Linked DNA regions of Homo sapiens: all the other regions are linked to region 4. The links come from fine-mapping of genetic effects on gene expression. A gene starts in region 4. Each other region holds a variant in brackets. All regions are shown on one strand. Distances are from middle to middle.

Region 1 (5,146 bases), 120 kb before region 4:
ATGTAGGGACAAAATAGAGAGCAGCTGGCAGCAGTTCTCTTTGCATAGGATGAGGGTGGAAAGCACATGGATAGGAATTCATCCTGTCACTCTCCTTGATCATGGTAGAAATGGAAATCTTTAATACTGAAGGGAAGGGGAGAATGAGCCTTGAAGCTGATACCTATACCAATACCCACCTCACCCACCTCCCAGGCCTCAAAAGTGTCTAAAGGTACAGACGTATTCTGGGACTTGTTGTTTTTGCTGGCCTTGCTCCCTCAGCATGTTGGGAGCTGTAGTCCTTGCCAGCCACAGCCTGGCACAGCTGTTTGATGCCAGCTGCTGCCCACCCCCTGAACGAAGAGTGAGGCTTGGCCTACTCTGCCCTGCCCCCCTCCCCTGCAGTCCTGCCCCATGAGTCAGCTTGAAGCCATGGTCTAGAGCCAGACTGGCTGGGTGGCAGGGGAGTGAATATAGAGCGTCTTGTTGACAGGGTGGGAACTGAGAGGGCTCTGGGGTTAATAAGCAGATGCCAGGTATGCTGGGGTCAAGTAGGGCATCATGTCATCCCCTGGCTTCCCCAGGGCAAGGGGTCAAGAGGGCAACTGGGATGACCTGGAAGTGGTGGTGCTAGGGAAAAGGCCCCTCCTGAATCTGTATGGCTTGGGTGGAGGAAAGAAGGGTAGAAATTAGTGCAGGTTGTACCTTCTGACAAGGTTGGTTGCAGGTAGGATAGTGCAGGTTGCGATTGGTGTTCTGCCCTTTCCAGCCATCCCGCCCACCACAGGGAACCAGGATTTTCTTAGGGATCCCAATTCTTAGGAGAATTTGGTGAAATGGGATAGTGGGGTACAATGATGGGAACTTGGTGTAGGAGAGCTTTTCAGTCCCTGGGTACAAATCTCTCCTTTCTGCCTGCTCCCCACCCCCACCTCTGTTCCTGATTTTCCCTTGTACAATTAATCTCTCTGCTTCTCTCATCTGGGAAATTTTTCTCTCCACTCTCAGGACTGCTGCTCAGATGTCTGGGACTTGCATTCTACTTTTTTTGAGCCCTGCTGTGTGCTTACCCCTGTACTTGGGGTTGGATGGAGGGGTGGGACACAGATCTGTCCTCAGGAACTCTATGGTCGGTCTAGAAGATGCCTTACCCACAGGAGTGAGCAGAACTGTTAGTGAGCTTACAGGAAGTAGTAACACTGCCATAGGTGAGGTCTCAGAGAAGGGAGAGATGCTTATGGTCTGGGGTGGACAGAGCAGACTTTCTGGAGGAGATGGCATTTGACCTATCCAAGGAGGAAAAGTCTTGGGTAGGCATTCAAAGGGCACTTCTTGAAGGGGAAAGAGCACCGTGAATGTCAGACAGCAAAAGAGAAGGCTGACCCTGGGGGCAGCTGGCTTTCAACTTGACATTCCCCTCACCCTAGTATGGGCTGGAATAGTTAGTGAAGACCATCTTATGCACCCGTGGTTTGGGGTTTTGGTGTTGGGTGTGTGAGCACTGGGGGAGGGGCGTGGAGAGGTACTCCCTAGTTGCTTCCAGCTGACTGACTGCTGCGGCCTTATCTCTAGTTTGCAGGGCCTTGCGGGAGGGCCCTGGAAAGTGCCTTCTGGCAGTGACCCCTTCCCCTTCCCCTTCTTGTTTTTGGTCGGATTTGTTGCCTCTTGTTAAAGAGACAGGCTGCTGGAGGCAATTTGGAGTTCAGGGCTGAAAGGCCAGCTCTGAGCTGACTTGAAATTTGTACCTCTGAGGACCGCTGATGGGGTATAACTGTGTGGGAGACCTCTGCCCTTAGTGCCCTAGGATGGCACTTGTCCCTTTGGAGATAGACATATAAGAAGGAGTTGTGCAATTTGGTGGCTTTGAGTAAGAAAGCTGAATTCTTCCCCTGGCCGCCTCTCAGCTGACACGGTCTCTTGGATCTTGGGGGTCTCTCATCCCTTCCTCCATGTAGGGCAGGAGTCCTCAAATGGTGGCCCTGACAAGTAGTTATTCTACCTCAACTCACTTGTCACATCCTTA[T/C]TATACTGAGCCAAGACCTGCCTCTTTGACTCCTTAGGTAGCCCAACTCTGCCATCTGTGCCCTGGACCCCAAGCCTACCCTTTCTGTTCCTGAAGAGCCTCTCACATGGGAGAAGGATGTCCTGGAGTGTACTATTAGCCTATAATTGGTGACAGGCCTTACCGCTGGCTCCAGTGATCCTGGCTTACGTCTGTTCTTCTCTCCTCAGGGTCCTGCTGAGCTCAGGAGCTGCACGGAATGGTGGCAGTCACCTTGCCAGTGCAGCAGGCATGGATCAGACTGCAAGCTAGGGGCACGAGGCATCAGTTGGGAAGAGGGGACGCACAGCTAGGCTTGAGGCCTCTTCATCGGGGTAAGTACCAGGGAGAAGAGGGGGAAGTGTGTCCAGTAAGAAGCCTGAGCTAAACCTGTCACCCTCTCAGGAGTTCTGAGAGTGGTCTCTATATTCCATTAGTCCATCCAGGGATTTGTACACATTCATCCTTGGGAACCCATCAAAGTCACCCCTTTAGGCAAGGAGAGGGTCTGAAACTCAGCTGGAAGGAAGAAGACTCATTGATTCCCCTGACCACCTTTTCTTCTCTTCTCTTACACAGATGTCCCCAGGCCCCCCAGCCCAGGCCCAGCATAAAGGCCGTGTTGGGGGGCCCCCCTGACCCAAGGGGGGCTTCATGCGCCACGTGCAGGCGGAGCCGTCTCCATCCTCAGAGCCGGAGGCTGGCCCTTCACAGCCTCCAGTCAGGCAGGGGGCCCTCCAGGGTGGCCTGCTCATGGGCTACAGCCCAGCAGGGGGGGCGACATCCCCCGGGGTCTACCAGGTATCCATCTTTTCCCCTCCGGCTGGTACCTCTGAGCCTCATAGGGCCCTGAAACGACAAGCCCCATCCACTGAGGGTCCCCGGGAGCTGAAGAGAGGCCCTGGGCTGGGGGCCAGAGAGGGACTACCCCCTGAAGAACCATCTACTGTGGGGCTCTTAGGCCCAGAGGGACCGGGGCTGGGACTAGGTGTGGCCAGCCAGCATTTCTCCCACCGTGGCCTCTGTGTTGTGGAACAGAGAAGTAGTGTCACCTCATCTTGGACTTCGGGGGCCTGGAGTCCCCCCTGCCCCCCATCAAATGCTTCCTGCAATACTTTGCACACCAGAGACTGGGCCTCCCCAGATCCAGGGGGACAGGGGTCCCTGGGGGAGTCCCCAGGGCCAGCCCCTCCAGGCCAGCTGCACACACTTGACACTGATTTGCACAGTCTTGCACAAATAGGGGGTAAGAGCCCAGTGGCTGGGGTGGGCAATGGGGGTAGCCTCTGGCCTAGGGAGTCCCCTGGCACTGCCAATGGGCACAGTCCCGAGCACACACCCCCTGGCCCTGGACCCCCAGGCCCCTGCCCCACCAAGCGAAGGCTGCTTCCTGCTGGAGAAGCCCCAGATGTCAGCTCTGAGGAAGAGGGGCCAGCCCCTCGGAGGCGCCGGGGATCCCTGGGCCACCCTACTGCTGCCAACAGTTCTGATGCCAAAGCCACACCCTTCTGGAGCCACCTGCTGCCTGGGCCCAAAGAGCCTGTTTTGGTAAGCCAATAAAGGACCTCATTTACTCTTTTTTTACTTTTTTTTTTTTTTTTTTTTTTTTGAGATGGGATCTCACTCCATCACTGCTGGAGTGCAGTGGCACAATCTCAGCTGACTGCAACCTCCTCCTCCCAGGCTCAAGGGATCCTCCAACCTCAGCCTCCCAAGTATCTGGGACCACAGGCACATGACATTGCACCCAGCTAATTTTTGGTATTTTTGGTAGAAATGGGGTTTCGCCATGTTGCCCAAGCTGGTCTCGAACTCCTGAGCTCAAATCATCGACCCACCTTGGCCTTCTAAAGTGTTGTGATTACAGGCGCTCAAGCCACTGCGCCTGTCCTTCATGTACTCTTAAGTGGATATTTGTGTGGGTAAAGGTGGAGGCCTGGGGGGCAGGGTGTTCCTTTGAGAGTTTGTGATGAGCTTCTGCCCCAAAACATACATGGCCTTCACCCTGTGTCTTTTCCCAATCATTTCTCTCCGTAGGACCCAACAGACTGCGGTCCCATGGGGCGGAGGCTGAAAGGAGCCCGTCGCCTGAAGCTGTAAGTGACCAGCTTTTTCCTCTACCCTGTCCCTGAGAATGGGGGCAGAAGTCTGTACTCTTTCCAGCATCCGAGTAGGGGACCCCAGGGCAGAAGCCCTACATAGTGGCAGAGGGTGGAGTCCAAGGGCATAAGCAGGAATCCCAGAATACCTCAAGCCAACCCCCTGTGTTTCCCTTCCTCTACCAGGAGCCCCCTTCGAAGCCTCCGGAAGGGGCCAGGCCTGCTGAGCCCCCCCAGTGCCTCCCCTGTTCCTACCCCTGCTGTCAGCCGTACCCTGCTGGGCAACTTTGAGGTAGCTCCCGTTGGGGTTTGTGATTGCCGGGGTCCTGGGAGAGGTGGGATGGTGGAATGTGGCTTGGATGGATAAGGAAAAGAATTGGCATCTCTCTCTTCATGTGTTTTCCCTACCCTAATCCCAGGAATCATTGCTGCGAGGACGTTTTGCACCATCTGGCCACATTGAGGGCTTCACAGCAGAAATTGGAGCTAGTGGGTCATACTGCCCCCAGCACGTCACGCTGCCTGTCACTGTCACATTCTTTGATGTTTCTGAGCAAAATGCCCCGGCTCCCTTCCTGGTATGCCTTGACTCCAACCCCAAAGTCAGCTCATCAAGAGGATGAGGATTTGGGGGCGGGGCCAGGGGGCAAGAGGTATTTCTTACTTATTCCTCACCTAGAAGTGAGTCAGGGCCAGGTGAGGAGAACTCTACTGTAGGGCAGGGGCAGGTTCAGGGTGAGAGCTTGTGGAGAGGGACATGTGTTTAGGGCCCAGGGTTTTCCTAGTCCCCACCTTGACTGATGGCTCCCTGGCCTTCCAGGGCATCGTGGATCTGAACCCCTTGGGGAGGAAGGGTTACAGCGTGCCCAAGGTGGGCACCGTCCAAGTGGTGAGTTTGCCCTGAGGGAGTGGGAGTGGGGAGAGAGGAAAGCAGCCCTCAGGCCCTACCAACCTTGACTGTCCTGTCCCTAGACCTTATTTAACCCCAACCAGACTGTGGTAAAGATGTTCCTTGTGACCTTTG
Region 2 (5,146 bases), 530 kb before region 4:
AGCCACTGTACCCCACACCAAGTAAAATCTGAATGCAATACATTTAATAGTTAACAAGATGAGGTAATATCTGTTTGAGTGTTGTGTAATCCTAGGCCAGTTATCTTGCCTTTCCCTGCCCCCATTTCCTGTAGAATGGTGATGAAAATACCACCAACATTAAGTGAATTAATACTATCAAGCACTTAAATTGTGCCTGACATACAGTAAATACCCAGTAAGTGTGATACTATTATCAAGTGATAAGATGTTGGTTAATATCCAAAACCCCCACAAAGGAGATTACACAATTCTGACCAAAATAGGACGGTAACCTTGGAGAAACATGAAAAGACTGGATATGGATACCTTTCCCCACTCCTCAATCCCAGCATCTTCCAGAACTCAGTAGTGGTCTGGGCAGCTTTCATAAGCAATAGAGAGATCCAGGGTGCTCAAAATAAAGCAGGCATGAATATAAACATTGGTTACTGAGTCTTCCTGTGCCTGGACCAGGCTACTTTATGGGGAGTTGAAGGCTTAGGGGAAACATATGCCCCCTACTATAGATCTGAACAGTGGTCTATTCAAAACAGTACATGAAAGTGCTCTGTAAACTGACCATTTTATAGAAATATAAAGCACTGTTAAAATGCTAGGAACTCACTCTGCATGGCCACCACCCAAGCAGTTGGGACTACAGGCACGTGCCATCACGCCCAGCTAATTTTTGTATTTCTTTTCTTTTTTTTGGTAGATAGGGTTTCATGTTGCCCAGGCTGGTCTCAAACTCCTGAGCTCAAGCAATTCGCCCACCTAGGCCTCACAAAATGCTGGGGTTACAGGCAGAAGCCACCACACCTGGCCTAAAAAATATGTTTAAAGGTGGCTGAGGCTTGCTGGAGTGCAGTGGTGCGATCTCGGCTCACTGCAACCTCCACCTCCTGGGTTCAAGCAATTCTCCTGCCTCAACCTCCCGAGTAGCTGCGACTGCAGGAGTGTGCCTCCACGCCAGGCTAATTTTTGTATTTTTAGTAGAGACGGGGTTTTGCCGTGTAGGCCAGCTGATCTCGAACTCCTGGCCTCAGGTGATCCGCCTGCCTCGGCCTCCCACAGTGCTGGGATTACAGGCATGAGCCACCGTGCTCGACCAAAAATTCTTTTTAAAGGAAAAAAAAAAATAGGGATGTTGGTTAAAGTTTGTAGAAGAAGTAATTAGACACCCAGTCCCCACCAACAACCCTACACTGTCAGGAGACCACTGGTCTCCTGCTCCTCAGGATTACTGGAGATTTATTTCTGGAGAACTTTGAGTGGAACTGCATTCGACTCTGGAAAACAAGGCATGGAAGAAAGCAGGATGAGAGGCCAATCTGAAAACTGAGGGGTTAGGTGAAAATCTCCAAAGAATTGCTAGACTTCTTCCTTCTATTTCAGGATAATACCAACAGCCAGACTTATTTATCCCACCCTACCCCTGGTAGATTATTTCTCTGCAGAAACTGAACTACCTCAGAGAAAAGAATGTCAAATTCTCTGGGGGTTTCCCCACACAAAAAAAGGCCAGCCTGTTCCACCTGCCCACCAGACAAGTTTGCCAGTTGATATATCTTTCCACTCTCACAGAACCTCCAGTGTTTTTAAATGGCTCATTTTTATATCAGTAGCCAAGGGATTACCAGAGTTTTTTTTTTTTTTTGAGATGGAGTCTCGCTCTGTCCCCCAGGCTGGAGTGCAGTGGTGCGATCTTGGCTTACTGCAAGCTCCACCTCCCGGGTTCACGCCATTCTCCTGCCTCAGCCTCCCGAGTAGCTGGGACTACAGGTGCCCGCCACCACGCCCGGCTAATTTTTTGTATTTTTAGTAGAGACGGGGTTTCACCGTGTTACCCAGGATGGTCTCGATCTCCTGACCTTGTGATCCACCCGTCTCGGCCTCCCAAAGTGCTGGGATTACAGGCGTGAGCCACTGCACCCGGCCTGGGATCACCAGACTTTTGAGGGCAGCCTCCAACAGAAAACAAAGAGTACAACAAAAACATAAAATAGGAGTCTGGGAGAAACACATAATGCAGAACAAAACAAGACAAAACCCAACACATGAGGTCATTTTATCACTTTATTGATGATGCTAATTTTGAACTAGTCCTTCGTTAAGATAGTGTCTGTCAGGTTTCTCCATTGTAAAGTTATCATTTTCTCCTCTAATTAATAAGCAATCTATGGAGAGATTACTTTTAGATTAGATAAATAACCTGTTCCCATCAAACTTTCATCCAATCATTTTAGCATCCATTGATGAGTTTCATCTGAATCAGTTATTTACTATGATGGTTGAAAAATGACAGGTTTGTTTTGTTTTGTGTTTTTGAGGCAGAGTCACACCCTGTTGCCCAGGCTGGAGTGCAGTGGCCCTATCTTGGCTCACTGCAACCTCCGTCTCCCACAGCCTCCTGAGGTGCTGGGATTACAGGCATGTGCCCCATGCCTAGCTAATTTTTTGTATTTTTAGCAGAGACAGGTTTCACCATGTTGGCCAAGCTGGTCTCAAACTCCTGGCCTCAAGTGATCCACCCACCTCAGCCTCCCAAAGTGCTGGGATTACAGGCATGAGCCACTGCGCCTGGCCAAAAAATGACAATTTTCTATTATTCCTTCTACATTGATTAGTTGGCATTCTAACATAATAAAGATTTCCCTTTTCCTTCCTTTCTTAATTTATTGATTTAGGATAAATATGGACCCCTGGATTTTAAAAAGTCAGTGGGTCATAATCCATTACTGATTTTGATGTTCAGACTGCCCCAGATTTGGCACTATTTGGCTTAAATTTTTATTTTT[T/A]TTTTTTAATTTTTTGAGATGGAGTCTCCCTCTGTTGCCCAGGCTGGAATGCAGTGGCCCTATCTTGGCTCACTGCAACCTCCACTTCCTGGACTCAAGCCATCCTTCCACCTCAGCCTCCTGAGTAGCTGGGACTACAGGCATGCACCACCATGCCTGGCTAATTTTTGTATTTTTTGTAGAGACAAGGTTTCACCATGTTGCCCAGGCTGGTCTCAAACTCCTGGGCTCAAGGATCCAGCCACCTCAGCCTCCCAAAGTGACAGGATTATAGGCATGAGCCACCACGCCCAGCCACTATTTGGCTTTTTTTTTCATTGTGAAGACCTTTATTGCTGTGTATGAATTTTTAAAAGCTAACTACTTATTTTGGAATAATTTACAGTTATAAAAAGTTGCAAAGATAGTTCAGAGTTCCTGTACCTCTTTTAACCAGTTTCCCTAATGTTACCATCTTACGTAATCAAGGTACATTTGTTAAAACAAAGCAATTAACATTGAGTACATTACAATTAACTGAACTGGCAGACTTTATTTGAATGTGGCTGCTTTTTTCACTTATGTCCTGTTATTTAGCTTTATAAAAAACATTATAATTTTATAAAACATATAAGCTAATTAAAAACAAAGCCACCCTCACAAAAGATATGCAGATGTATAATGCAGGCTGCAGATAAACAGTTTAGATGTTGTTAATAAGTATAGCTTAGCAGAGAAAAGTTTTGCATTTCCCACAATCAAGACAATGAGTAGTTTTGGGAACTGTCCAAGAAGGTAATTTTTAGCAAAAGTAAGCAGTACTAATCAATAGACAGGACTATATGATTTTAGTATACCTCTATGCCTGGTCTTCCCAATAATCACTCTGCTGACCTTTCACCTCAGTACACCAGGGACAGAGGTGGATTGAAATCATACAAATCTTTGGAAATCAACAGAAGGTACTTTTGTTTGTGCTGACTTACTGGGTATCCTCTCCAACAGCGACAACCTCAGTTAAGGTAATTCCTTTTGGCTAAGTTTTCACCTCAGACTGCATGATTGATTCCAGTAGCAAAGGTCAGAAATGCTCAAACCATAACAAATCAAAATAAATTATTACATACTGTACTCTATTCTCTGATCTAGAATTATCCTGAGGCTATCAATTAATATCATCTTGTGAGCCAATTAATCAAGCAAGCAATCAAGCCACAAGCATCTACTGTATTCTTCCTGTGTATAAGGAGCTATGCTGGATGTTCAGGGGTAATAGCCCAATTTGAGGGGCTCATAATTTTGTTAAAATAATTGCCAATATGCCTCTGGAGGCCAGAACAGCAAAAAGAAAGTTTCAGGGTGTAAGGGTTAGAGCAATGCTTTTAATTTTTCAGCCCCAATACATAAAACAGCTACCCTGGTTGAAGCAGAGGAGGCCTAATGCCCCATGCACTCCAATTCCCTCTCCTTACTGTGGGGGGCCCCAGAGGCACCTCCAGGGAACCCTAGGCAAAGGCAGAACTGACCATAGTTTGTTGGGAGTTAGAGATATGGGGAGTGAAATAATTAACTGACAGAAACATCTCTCTTTTTTCATGCCTCCCAAATCAAATGTTTGTAAACAGATGTTGATTAACTTCACCAATAGCAAACCTAACTTCCCAGAACAGAAATAAACTTTGTACACGAATTTGGAAAGTCAGCTACCCTCCACCCTTGCCATGAGATTAGATGGAGGCTCTGAGTTTCCTATAGGACAAGTACTTCTCTGTGAAATGTGTGAGAGAGGCTCAAAGAATTTGGAGATTTCAGAACTGGTGGTAACAGTGATTCCTGTGGGTGTCTAGGACTGAACTGTAAAGAGAGAATAAACAAGTTCTTAGATGCTGAGAGCACCTGGCTATGGCATCAGGAGTCTGATTCCATAAATGGAATAGCAGCCAATGCCCAGGAGGTCATCTGTCTTTCCTCCAAGTAGAGTGTAGCTGCTGCTAGCTGAGGAGGCCACTGTTTCTAACTCGTATCATGTTATTTTGGACTCCAAGTGAGGCCAGACGGCATGCTGGGAGTGTGTTGAAAGGGCCTAGCCTGAAGGGCTGTCCCAGACACACCAGTTGCTGCCTTATTAGGCTTCCTTAATATAGAGTCCTCTTTCGAAGCACAGAACTTGGTTTGCTTTTGGCTTCTCACATATGTTGTAGAAAAGTTCAGCTAAACGTCCACCCCCAAAAGTCAAAGACAAACATTCCAGAAGAGGCTTGGCTCTGAAGTAGAATGGGCTTAGCAGCCTAAAAGGTAAAAGACCCCAGGCGCCCAAGGCTCCAATTCAGTAAATGGAGACTGCAGCA
Region 3 (5,146 bases), 57 kb before region 4:
TAGGTCCACAAGTTGGCATCTGTTAGATTCCTTTATTCAAACTTTGAAAAATAAGAGACAGGGTTTCGTTCTGTTGCTCAGGCTAAGAGTGTAGTGGCTATTTACGGGTGCTATATCGCTACTGATCTGTGCAGGAATTTTATCTGCTGTGTTTCCCACCTGGGCCAGTTCACCCCTTCTTAGGCACTGGTGGTCCCCCACTTCTGGAAGGTCACCATTATTGATGCCAAACTTAGCATCATTCGGTTCCCAATCGTCATGGCACACTACATCCTGGGCTCAAGGGATTCTCCTGCCTCAGCCTCCCAAGTAGCTGGGCTTATAAGTATGTACCACCACCCCTAGCCTTTTACTCAAACTTTTATGACACTTGTTGAAGAGATCGGGGCAGTTGATCTCCAGAGAATTGTAGCCATGTGCAGGATGGATTAGAAGGAATAGAGCAACCAATTTAGTGAGAAATAATGACTAAGACAATAGTGATGGTGGAAATGGAGAGGGGAAGATGGATTTGAAATACATTTCATAGGTATAATTGACAAGTTTTGTTTTGTTTTGTTTTGTTTTTTTGAGATGGAGTCTTGCTCTATTGCCCAGGCTGGAGTGCAGTGGCATGATCTCAGCTCACTGCAACCTCCGCCTCCTGGTTCAAACAATTCTTCTGCCTCAGCCTCCCAAGTAGCTGGGATTACAGGTGCACACCACCACACCCGGCTAATTTTTGTGTTTTTAGTAGAGATGGGGTACCACCCAGGCTGGTATCGATCTCCTGACCTCAAATGATCCTCCTACCTCGGCCTGCCAAAGTGCTGGGATTACACGCATGAGCCACTGAGCCTGGCTGACAAGATTTGGTGATGGCTTAGATCAGGGAGGAAGGAAGAGTCAAAGCTTAAGTATTTAGGTGGATGTCATGCATTTTGATAGGAATGGGCGTGTTGGAGGAAAAAGTTAAAGGGAAAATACGTTTTTGGACAAGTCAAATATGAGATAATGTCTGGTATGCTGTTGAATATGGGGACCTGAAGCCTAGAGATGCTTAGAAATGACTCATGTTTTTACAATACACCATATTTAATGGAATGGGCTCAAGACATTCTATTTTTAAAAAATGGTATTGGTAAATTGGACATGATTTTGGGGAAGGTTAGATTATCACCTCATACCATAAAAATCGGTAATCTAAAACATAAATATGCAAAATTATCAAAGTGCCAGGAGAAAATGTTTTAGAAGTCATGAAGTAAAGTGTTGGTAGATTTAACTACATAAAAAAATTTTTCTTTGATACAATAGAAGTCACCATAAAATTAGCCAATAAGATACAAATTGGAAGAAAATATTTGGAACATACATAATAGTTTGGGTCACTATCTCTGTAGGCAGGATCATGGCCCTCAAGATGCCCACGTCGTAATCCTTGGAACCTATGTATATATTATTTCACATGGAAAAAGGGGCATTAAGGTTCCAGGTGGAATTAAGGTTGCTAATCAACTGACTTCATTTATTTATTTAGAGACAGGGTCTTGCTCTGTCGTCAAGGCTGGAGTGCAGTGACATGATCTTGGCAACCTCCGCCTCCTGGGTTCAAGCGATTCTCCTGCCTCAACCTCCGGAGTAGCTGGGATTACAGGCACACATACCATGCCAGGCTAATTTTTGTATTTTTAGTAGAGATGGGGTTTTGCCATATTGGCCAGACTGGTCTTGAACTCCTGGCCGCAAACGATCCAGCTGCCCTGGCCTCCTGAAATGCTGGGACTGTTAAGGCATGAGCCACTGCTGCGCCTGGCTATCAACTGACTTTAAATTGGAAGGGTGTCCTGGATTATTCAGCTTTGTCCAGTGTAATCATAAGGGTCCTTAAAAGTGGAAGAGGTAGGGTCGGGCGCAGTGGTTCATGTCTGTAATCCCAGCACTTTTTGGGAGGCCGAGGCGGGTGGATCACTTGAGGTCAGGAGTTTGAGACCAGCCTGACCAACATGGAGAAACTCCATCTCTATTAAAAATACAAAATTAGCCAGGCGTGGTGGCGCATGCCTGTAATCCAAGCTACTCAGGAGGCTGAGGCAGGAGAATCACTTGAACACAGGAGGCAGAGGTTGCAGTGAGCCGAGATTGTGCCATTGCACTCCAGCGTGGGTGATAAGAGTGAAACTCTGTCTCAAAAAAAAAAAAAAAAAAAATGGCTCACGCCTGTAATCCCAGCACTTTGGGAGGCCAAGGCGGGCGGATCACGAGGTTAGGAGTTCGAGACCATCCTGGCTAACATGGTGAAACCCTGTCTCTACTAAAAATACAAAAAAATTAGCCCGGCGTAGGTGGTGCACACCTGTAGTCCCAGCTACTCGGGAGGCTGAGGCAGGAGAACGGCATAAAACCTGGGAGGCGGAGCTTGCAGTGAGCCGAGTTCGTGCCACTGCACTCCAGCCTGGGAGACAGAGCGAGACTCCATCTCAAAAAAAAAAAAAAAAAAAAAAGTGGAAGAGGGAGGCAGAAGAGGTCAGAGTGATACAATGTGAGAAGAACTTGACTTGCCTTTGCTAGCTTTAAAGATAGAAGAAGGGGGTCAGTAACCAAGGAATGTGGGCAGCCTCTAGAAACTGGGAAAGGCAAGGAGTGAATCCTACCCAGAGCCTAGAGAAAAGGATGTAGGCCTGCCAACCCCTTGATTTTAGCCCTGTGAGACATGTGTCAGACTTTTTTTGCGGGGAGGAGACAGGGTCTCTTTTGCCCAGGCTGGCATGTAGTGGTGCAGTGGCTCACTGTAGCCTTGACCTCTCTGGTTCAGGTGATCCTCCCACCTCACCTTGCCCAGTAGCTGGGACTATAGGCATGCACCACCATGCCCAGCTAATTTTTGTGGTTTTTTTGTTTTTTTTTTTTT[G/TG]TAGAGACAGGGTTTTGTCATGTTGCCCAGGCTGGTCTCAAACTTCTGGGCTCATGCTATCAGCCCATCTCAGCCTCCCAAAGTGTTGGGATTACAGATGTGAGCCACTGCACCCAGGCTCCGTGTCAGACTTCTGACAAAATAAATTTGTTTTGTGGTAATTTGTTACAGCAGCAGTAGAAAACTGTAATACATTGACTAATACAATGTCCAACAAATAGTGCATTAGAAAATGGGTAGAGGATATGACCCGGTGATTATAGAAATCCAGACGGTTACTAGACGTATTAAAAGACACTTGTTTTCATGGCCTTGGAGATGGATGAGCTGACCCAGGGAGAGAAAAGAGCAGAGGGCTGAGAAGAAATGGTCAGAAAGATACGTGGAGAACTTACAGGTCAAGTGGATGAAGAAGAGAACAATACCCAGGACAAAGCACAGTTGCCTAGACTCAGATGACCTGTGCTCGTGTGAATGGATGTAGTTTTTTGTTCACATGCTGTGAAGTCGTTCCCTCTCAAGGGCGGCTTTGGGCTATGCTGACCTGGCCCTGTAGCCTCACCCTATAGAGTAGGGATGTGTGGACTCCAGATGTGATCATCTGTGAAGATCCACAAAAGAGTTAAGCCTGCAGAATCCTGAGTGCTCTACTGGGACTTGAAACTGAGGGGCTATGGCTGTAGCAGAATTGGGAATTGACATTTTCAGTACCCTAGATTCCAAAGAAGACATGAATGGGATTTATCTAATTCAGCTAGTTTATTAGAATTTCCATTTCTTGTCTCCACATCCCCACCTTCCCCCTGGTTTGGCTTCAGGTCTTGGCATACCAAGTGCTAGTATTACCAGCCTTTTCTCTACTGACTAGATTTGGTGGGTAGGGGTCGATGGTTATCCAGGCATTTGGCTAACACCTTTTGCAAACCCCTGGTAAGGGAAGCCTTGAGGGTAGGGAAGGAGAGATACTTCTCCATGTGGGCCCAAGGACAGTGCTTACAGTGGCGAGGGGTCAGGATGTCACTTGCTCTTCGCCCTGCCTCTGGCTGATCCTGGGGACCCGAAGCTTTGGGGAGAAGCAGCTGGGGAAGAGCAGTGTGTTGAGAGCTCTGGCCCCTGTGTTGAGACCTTTGGGGAAATGTGCTTACAGGGGCCTCTACTAGGCTTCTGGCCTGGGCAGGGTGGTTCTTCCCTGTGACTGTGGATAACCCCAACCTTGCAGTCCCTCTTCTATGGTCTCCTGCTTTGGGTTTCCTAGGGTGCTCTCTCTTTTTGGCTGAGGATGAGGCTGAAGCCTTGTCCTTTCTCTTGCCTGAGACCAGAACCTTAGAGTTTGAGGGTTCTCCTGGGCCTGGAGATAGATAGTCCACACCAGCCTCCATGTGTACACATGGCCCTTGGGATGGGACCTGGCTCACCATCTTCCCCTTCATTTTCTCCCCTCTCTGAGACCCTTGTTCCGCCCTGCCAGACTCCTGTGGCTGAAGCTGGGAAGAGGATTGGAAGTGATGACAGTGGGAGGACTGGACAGGCTGAGGTACTGTGCGCTGAACTTCTTGAGGATGACAACTTGAAGAGTGGGGGCATGGATTGGGGGGATAAATCTGCTGTGGTGGGCAGGAAGGGAGTCCCCAGAAGTCTGGAATTGTGGAGCTCAGAATAGGGGAGCTGCAAAATGATTGACTTGGGCCAGGGGCTCTGGAGGCAGGGCTCTGCCGCAGTTTCTTCAGCCTGAGTTTCAGCTCTCTACTCCACTGCCAGGCATGGATCCCAGGATGGGTGAGCAACTCTGGGACAGTCCATCTCTGGGAGAGTGGGGCCTCTGCCTTAACCCCTGGGCACGTTACTCCCTTGGGTAGACCAGGATGAGTGCGTTCAATCTTCACAGCTTCAGCTAGGGTGGGAGGCTGGGGTACTGGGTGTAGGGGATCCACTGCCAGAGGGCTGGGGCCTTGGGGAACTTCTCTTTGTTGCACATTTCTCCACACAAGTTCAAGGTCAATGTGTGGCTCTGGTAGAGGAGTAGAGAGTGAGCTGGGGGCTGGGAGCTCAGTGGCCCAGTGGTTCTTTCTTTGCTCCACTGCCTCCCCGTCAGGCTTATAGTTGCTTTGGTCTGCGATAGGCTCACTTACGTGGGACTTTGAAACAGAGTTTGAGGATGGGCTGGAGCCCCTACCTGGGAACACAGGAACACAGTTTTCTTTTTGCTCCATTTCCCCTACAATAGACTGAGAATCAGACAAGACTCCCAGAGGGCTG
Region 4 (5,146 bases):
ACCAACCACCATTTCCTTAATACCTCTCCTAGCCTCACCCTACGCCCCCAGTCCACCCTGTGGTTTAGGATCCGGCCCATCATCAGACCCATATTCCTCTGAGTCCCTTTTAAGGTGGGTGCAGGAGCATTTGTTATAAGAGAAACGTACAACCCGAATTCTTCCATTCCAGTCTCCCTCTATCGGTGTGTCTGTGGTGGATATCAGGGGAAGGGGGACTTTCCTGTAGCTAGAGCTCTCTGGGGGATGGCCAGAAGCCATTCTCAGCCCTTCTGAGACTTGGCCAACCCCTGCCAAAGCCAGGAGAACCAGAGTCTTTCTAGCAATGTCCTAGGCTGGCAGCCACAGCTGAGACCTGCCTTTCTGCCTCTGACTGCTTCACAGCAGGGAGGTGTACAGGGTGTCCTTCCAGGAGTGAGGCCTGTAACCGGGTAAGGGGGAGGCGCCCAAGGCCCTAGGTGGGCAGGGACAATGGCCCTCACTGCTGCCCCCACAGGCCCTGCTGCAGGTGGCTGGGTTGACTCATGGTTCTGGGAGTCACCTTTCTCTGACGAAGAAAAGGCTCCACAAAGGCGGGTACTCCCCCATTGCCCCCCACCAGCATGTCACGTCTGTGGGGGAGATGGGGTGGGGGGTGGGGTTGGGAGAGGCAGAGAAGAAAGAGCACCTCGTTGGGGGGGGGGGCAACCGTTTTCGGAAATGGCAGCAAAAGCCGTCTGAGAGGGAGCGGGGGGGGGTGGTCTGCCATTTCTGCCTCAACCCACACCTTCTTTCCCCTGGGACTGGGAAAGAACCCTAGCACACCAAGAGGGTGCCCCTAGAGAACGAGAGCAGCTTCCAGGCAGAGGGCCAGTGGAACGGCTCACCAACCACCCACCTCCTTTTGGTGTCCCTGCATTACCTCCACACCCGGCCAGCTTCCTCCCTGGTACCCACCTGCTAGCTGCTCTAGGCCCATACATCTCTTGCCTCCGCAGACACAGGGCAAGCTCTTTCAGGATCTGCCTCCTTTTTCTCTTTCTGCTTTCCTCCCTCCTTCCCTTCCCCCCTACCCACAGGCCACGTGTTGGAATGACAAAGGAGCCCCATGGCATGGCACTGCCTTTGATGGAGAAGAATGAGGAGGATGTTAAGGTAGAGGCAGGAAGGAAAAATGGGGAGAAAATGGCGAGGGGGACTGTTGAGGTACAGGGAGGGGAGATGGCTGATACAGAAAATGAGGTACTGATGGAGGGGGATGAGTGACAGATGGAAATGGCTGAGGTGGAAAATGGGTTAATGATGGGTTGAAAGGGAGGAATGTGGAGAGTTGAAATAATGGAGGAAATGTCTGTGGAAAATGGATACCTGAAGGGTTTGAGAAAAGGAATGATAAGGGGTGCAATTCATTCAAATATGTGGGTGAGGCCGGAGGGGGGTTCCTGTATGTCACAGAGGGGATGAGGATGAGTTGGAGGAAGCAGGAAGGCAATGGAGGGGATGGCCGCGTGGAGGGTTTGACTGGGTATGGGTGTGAGTGCCCTTCTCCGGAGGGACTTACCGAAACTTTACAAACCCATTCAGCGTCCACGCTCGAAGTTTTAAGGGCTCCAGCTGAATTTTAAACATCAAGCTGGCTAAGAAGTCTTCTCCCCAGGAGTGTGGGAAGCTCCGGAAAGCTCCTCGGGCCTGCAGTGGGGGTGCTGCTGGGGGTGGGCAGGAGAGCACTGTGCGCTTAAACATGCCCAGCCAAGCCCCTCACCTCTGATCGCTCCACCGGAGCCGGCCTGAAGTGCTGCAGCTCTGGAAGCCACCTCCTTGGACTCTCAGAGGCGCGTGCCCAGCAAGGCCTGTCTGGCGCAGCAGGTGCCGGACCTGATCCCCAAATGTGGAGAGTGAAGGGAGAAGACCCGCGGCCACCTGCTCTCAGGTGCAGCAGTGTCTGGCTGGCTGTGAGCGGCTGTATGGCAGCGTGTCAGTGAGGCTGGGAGTGCAAGCGTGTGTTTGTGAGTGGCAGCGTGTATACCTGTGACAGGTGTGATTGTGAGGGCCCGAGAGGCAGTGAGCTCCTGTCGCCTCTCACTGGGGAGGACCCGACCCCAATCCCCAAGAACCTACTCAATGAAGTCACTGACGGGAGTCTCCTCCCTCGCAGATGGGCGGGGCAGAGCGGAGCTCGGCCGGGACAAAAGGCGCGGCGAGGAGAGGAGGGGAGGGGGCTCGGGCGGGGGAGGGTGGTCGGTGATGTCACCCGCGCTGGCTGGCTGGTCTGCTCACAGATGCCTCCGCCCCACAGAACCCAATCTGGTCCGGTCCGACTCGACCCTCCCCTCCCCTCCCCTCCCCGACTCAGACGCTGGCTGCCCCCTGTGACAGCCAAGCCCTGGTCTAGGACTCCGAGCACCCTGCAGACCCCGGGGCCCCGCATCCCCAAGGCAGCAGAGCCTACGGGCCCTCAGTGTCCCAACCCCCCAACACCAGGAGCCCTGGCTTCACGACGCCCCGCTCCCGGGACCCCCGAGTCCTGGCTTGGCGCCCTCACCGGTGAGGAGCTGCGGGCGCCGCCGTGGTCCGTGAGACAGCCGCTGCCCCCTCCCCCGGCTCCGGCTCCGCCGCCTCCACCCGGGACAGGAGTCGCCTGCCCGCCGGCCGCCGATAGCGGGACCGGGAGCCCGCCCCCACGGCTCCGCCTCCGCGCCGCCCATTGAACCGTCTTCCTGTCACTCAGCTCAGCCTCCACTGTGATTGGGCAGTTTTCAACAAGCGGCTTGGTGATAGCCGCCCATCCTCCGCCCCTGTCACCCGGCCACACGCGCACACATTCCAGGCAGTGATTGGTGTGGATCTGATTGGCGCCCTCTGGGATCACTCAACCACGCCTCTTTGCCATCTTGTCGTGCCATTGGTGAAAAAGACAGAGGGCGGCAACCTCGCTCGCCCTTTGATTTTATTGGTTCGTGCCTGAGACTCAGACCCGAGCCCGGGGGCAAACTATATTAGTCCAATCTCCGGGTTGAGAAGGTGGGACGTACTGGCCACTGCTCGAATCCCAGGAGAACCTTCTGGAACCCTTGCGACGTCAAAGGCAGCCTTAAAGGAAAACTGTACCCACCAGTTGGCCGTGCGGCCGTGCATTCTTTCCTTTCTTCATTGGGGGGCAAGAGGGAGAGAACAGTGCACTCTGGGAGGTGTAGTCCCTGGACCGGGGCCAAAAGGTCAGCACTTCTTACTCGCCTTTCAGCCAACGGTGTAACCACCTCAAGCTGACCTCATTTAGCTTTACCTTATCCTGACCCCGCGGTGGCCTGATGTGACCTAACGGAATCTCTAACAGACCCCACGGATGCCGGGTTTCAGAGCCCCCCGGACCTCTCCCCCGAGGGAAACGGATGGCTCTGCCCAGGCCGGTGCCTCCAGGAATCTCCCCCGCCCACCCTCTGTACAGCCCCTCATCCTCGCGCCCCTCTTCAGCGACCCCGCGGTCTCCATTTCAGTCCCTCTTCTAATCAGTCTCTCATCCTGCTTCCCCCTGGAGTGCCTGTGTTTTAGCCCTTTCCTTCTTGGCCCTAGATGATCTCCTGTCTTCCTTCCCGCAGTGATCCCTTTTGTCTTATTCTTGGTTCTTTCTTTACACCCCGATCTCCTATCCTAGCTCTCCCCTTTCATCTTTCATCTCACTCCCCAAGATCCCCTTCCTTAACACCCTCAGAATCTCTAGTCTCCCCCACCCCCCATTAAGTCATTAGATCTCAGCCCCAGTGTCCCCGATGCAGGGAGCAGGCGGGGCTGCGGAGGCGGTCGCCAGCGGAAGCCGCCACTCCAGCAGACACGGTGCCTGGCGCCCACGTCACTGTCTCCCAGGCCCATCTGTGCTCGAGGGAGCGGGGGTGGGGAGGGAGTAATTTGGGGGTGAAGTGGGGGAGGGGAGTGCTGGGGGGTTGATGATGATAGAAGGGTCAGGCCGGAAGCTCCCCTTTACTTCTTTCTTTCCTATTTTCCAGAGACAGAGTTTGGACACCCATGAGGTCTTGCTAGAAACTGCAGCTTGAGTACCTGGGCCAAGAGCAGAGCAAGGCGGGGGGGGGGTGCCAGGGTCCTGGAGTCATGTCTGTAGATTCTTCACTACCTACCTTCATGCCAGGAGTCACTATGGGGCTCCCAAGGGTAAAGGGGCATGAGGTGTGAAGGAAGAAAGAGACTTGGGGTGAAAGGAGGATGGAAAGGAAGTGGGGTTGGGGGCCAGGAGGGGAGCAGAGATGGGTGATGAATGTGGGGAAATGAGCATGAGGAATTTGAGGAAATGGGGTTGAGGGGGGGAGGTAGGGAGAGGGGGTGGTGAGAGGATGGTGAGATGGGGTGAGGGGGATGAGGAGGGGAGGGGCATGGGGCAGATGAGCCATAGGGTGGGAGTAAGGAGGGCAGAGGAAAGGAGGGCTGGGGAGGGGAGGGAAGGCAGGGTGGGGGATAAGGAAAGAAGGGCTGGGGAGGGGCAGGAAGGCAGGGTGAGGGATGAGGAAAGAAGGGGTGAGTAATGAAAGGATGAGGCACAGAGATGGGGTGAGGAGGAGTGAGGAAGGGGGAGGGGAGGGAGGAGGGATGGACATCTCTGTGTGACACAGAGATGGGTAAGGTGGGGTGAGGGGCCCTGCACCGCTGCTGGCTCCTCAGATCTGGGGGCTCTCACTCTTCCACCTCCACACCTGTGGGGCCCAGGCTGTGGGTGGCTCTACTTCTTCCTATTCCAGTTCTGTCTCTTTTGCCTCCCCCAGCCTTGCCTGTGCCAACACGGAGGCAGAGAGTTTAGTCACCAGCCTTTACCTGGCCCCTGCTAATGCTAAAGTGTAGGCTCGGACCTTTGAGGGTGCAGAACTGTGCCTTCAGGTGTTGGTGGCACAGACTCCACTGTTTGCCTAGTCCTCGGTTCCCGCCCTCAGTCCCATTGTCCTGGGTGTCACGTGTGTGTAGTGCTCAGTGTGGCATGGACTGTGACAGTGTGGTCTGGAGTCTATGCACCTTGTGAGCTTACACGCCACACTCATGCCTCATCTCCTTTGTAAATGGGGATTGGTGCCTCAGGGGGTTGTTGAGAGGGTTAATTAAGGTAACACAGGTAGTGCACTTAGTTCTGAGCTGGGCATGTAGTTTATACCCAACCAATGGTTAACTT

Evidence for each region.
Region 1: its variant is fine-mapped to the expression of DNAJB5 in whole blood (TOPMed, PIP 0.97).
Region 2: its variant is fine-mapped to the expression of DNAJB5 in whole blood (TOPMed, PIP 0.96).
Region 3: its variant is fine-mapped to the expression of DNAJB5 in whole blood (INTERVAL, PIP above 0.99).

What each region holds. Positions count from the first base shown.
Region 1 is chr9:35,105,806-35,110,951 of GRCh38, reverse strand. ATOSB (atos homolog B) reads left to right here. Exons shown (of 9, transcript NM_025182.4): 2 at 2,215-2,358; 3 at 2,603-3,571; 4 at 4,061-4,119; 5 at 4,309-4,414; 6 at 4,542-4,700; 7 at 4,943-5,011; 8 at 5,095-5,146. The coding sequence starts at 2,678. Among named protein-coding and RNA genes, the nearest start is that of STOML2, 5.2 kb to the right of the region's middle. RefSeq lists a cis regulatory region at 1,544-1,561 and an enhancer at 1,481-1,625. The variant T/C (reference allele first, on the strand shown) is at 2,006.
Region 2 is chr9:35,521,503-35,526,648 of GRCh38, reverse strand. All of the region lies in intron 1 of RUSC2 (RUN and SH3 domain containing 2), which reads right to left. Among named protein-coding and RNA genes, the nearest start is that of RUSC2, 34 kb to the right of the region's middle. The variant T/A (reference allele first, on the strand shown) is at 2,820.
Region 3 is chr9:35,044,471-35,049,616 of GRCh38, reverse strand. SPATA31G1 (SPATA31 subfamily G member 1) reads right to left here. Exons shown (of 2, transcript NM_203299.4): 2 at 3,631-5,146. The coding sequence ends at 3,748. It also overlaps the pseudogene RN7SL338P. Among named protein-coding and RNA genes, the nearest start is that of SPATA31G1, 4.8 kb to the right of the region's middle. The variant G/TG (reference allele first, on the strand shown) is at 2,891.
Region 4 is chr9:34,987,207-34,992,352 of GRCh38, reverse strand. DNAJB5 (DnaJ heat shock protein family (Hsp40) member B5) reads right to left here and starts at 2,608. Exons shown (of 5, transcript NM_001349723.3): 1 at 2,522-2,608; 2 at 1,541-1,854. The coding sequence starts at 1,722. It overlaps DNAJB5-DT (DNAJB5 divergent transcript), which reads left to right and starts at 2,974. Exons shown (of 2, transcript NR_109756.1): 1 at 2,974-3,194. RefSeq lists enhancers at 564-1,493, 1,494-2,423, 2,978-3,187 and silencers at 2,705-2,853, 2,368-2,867.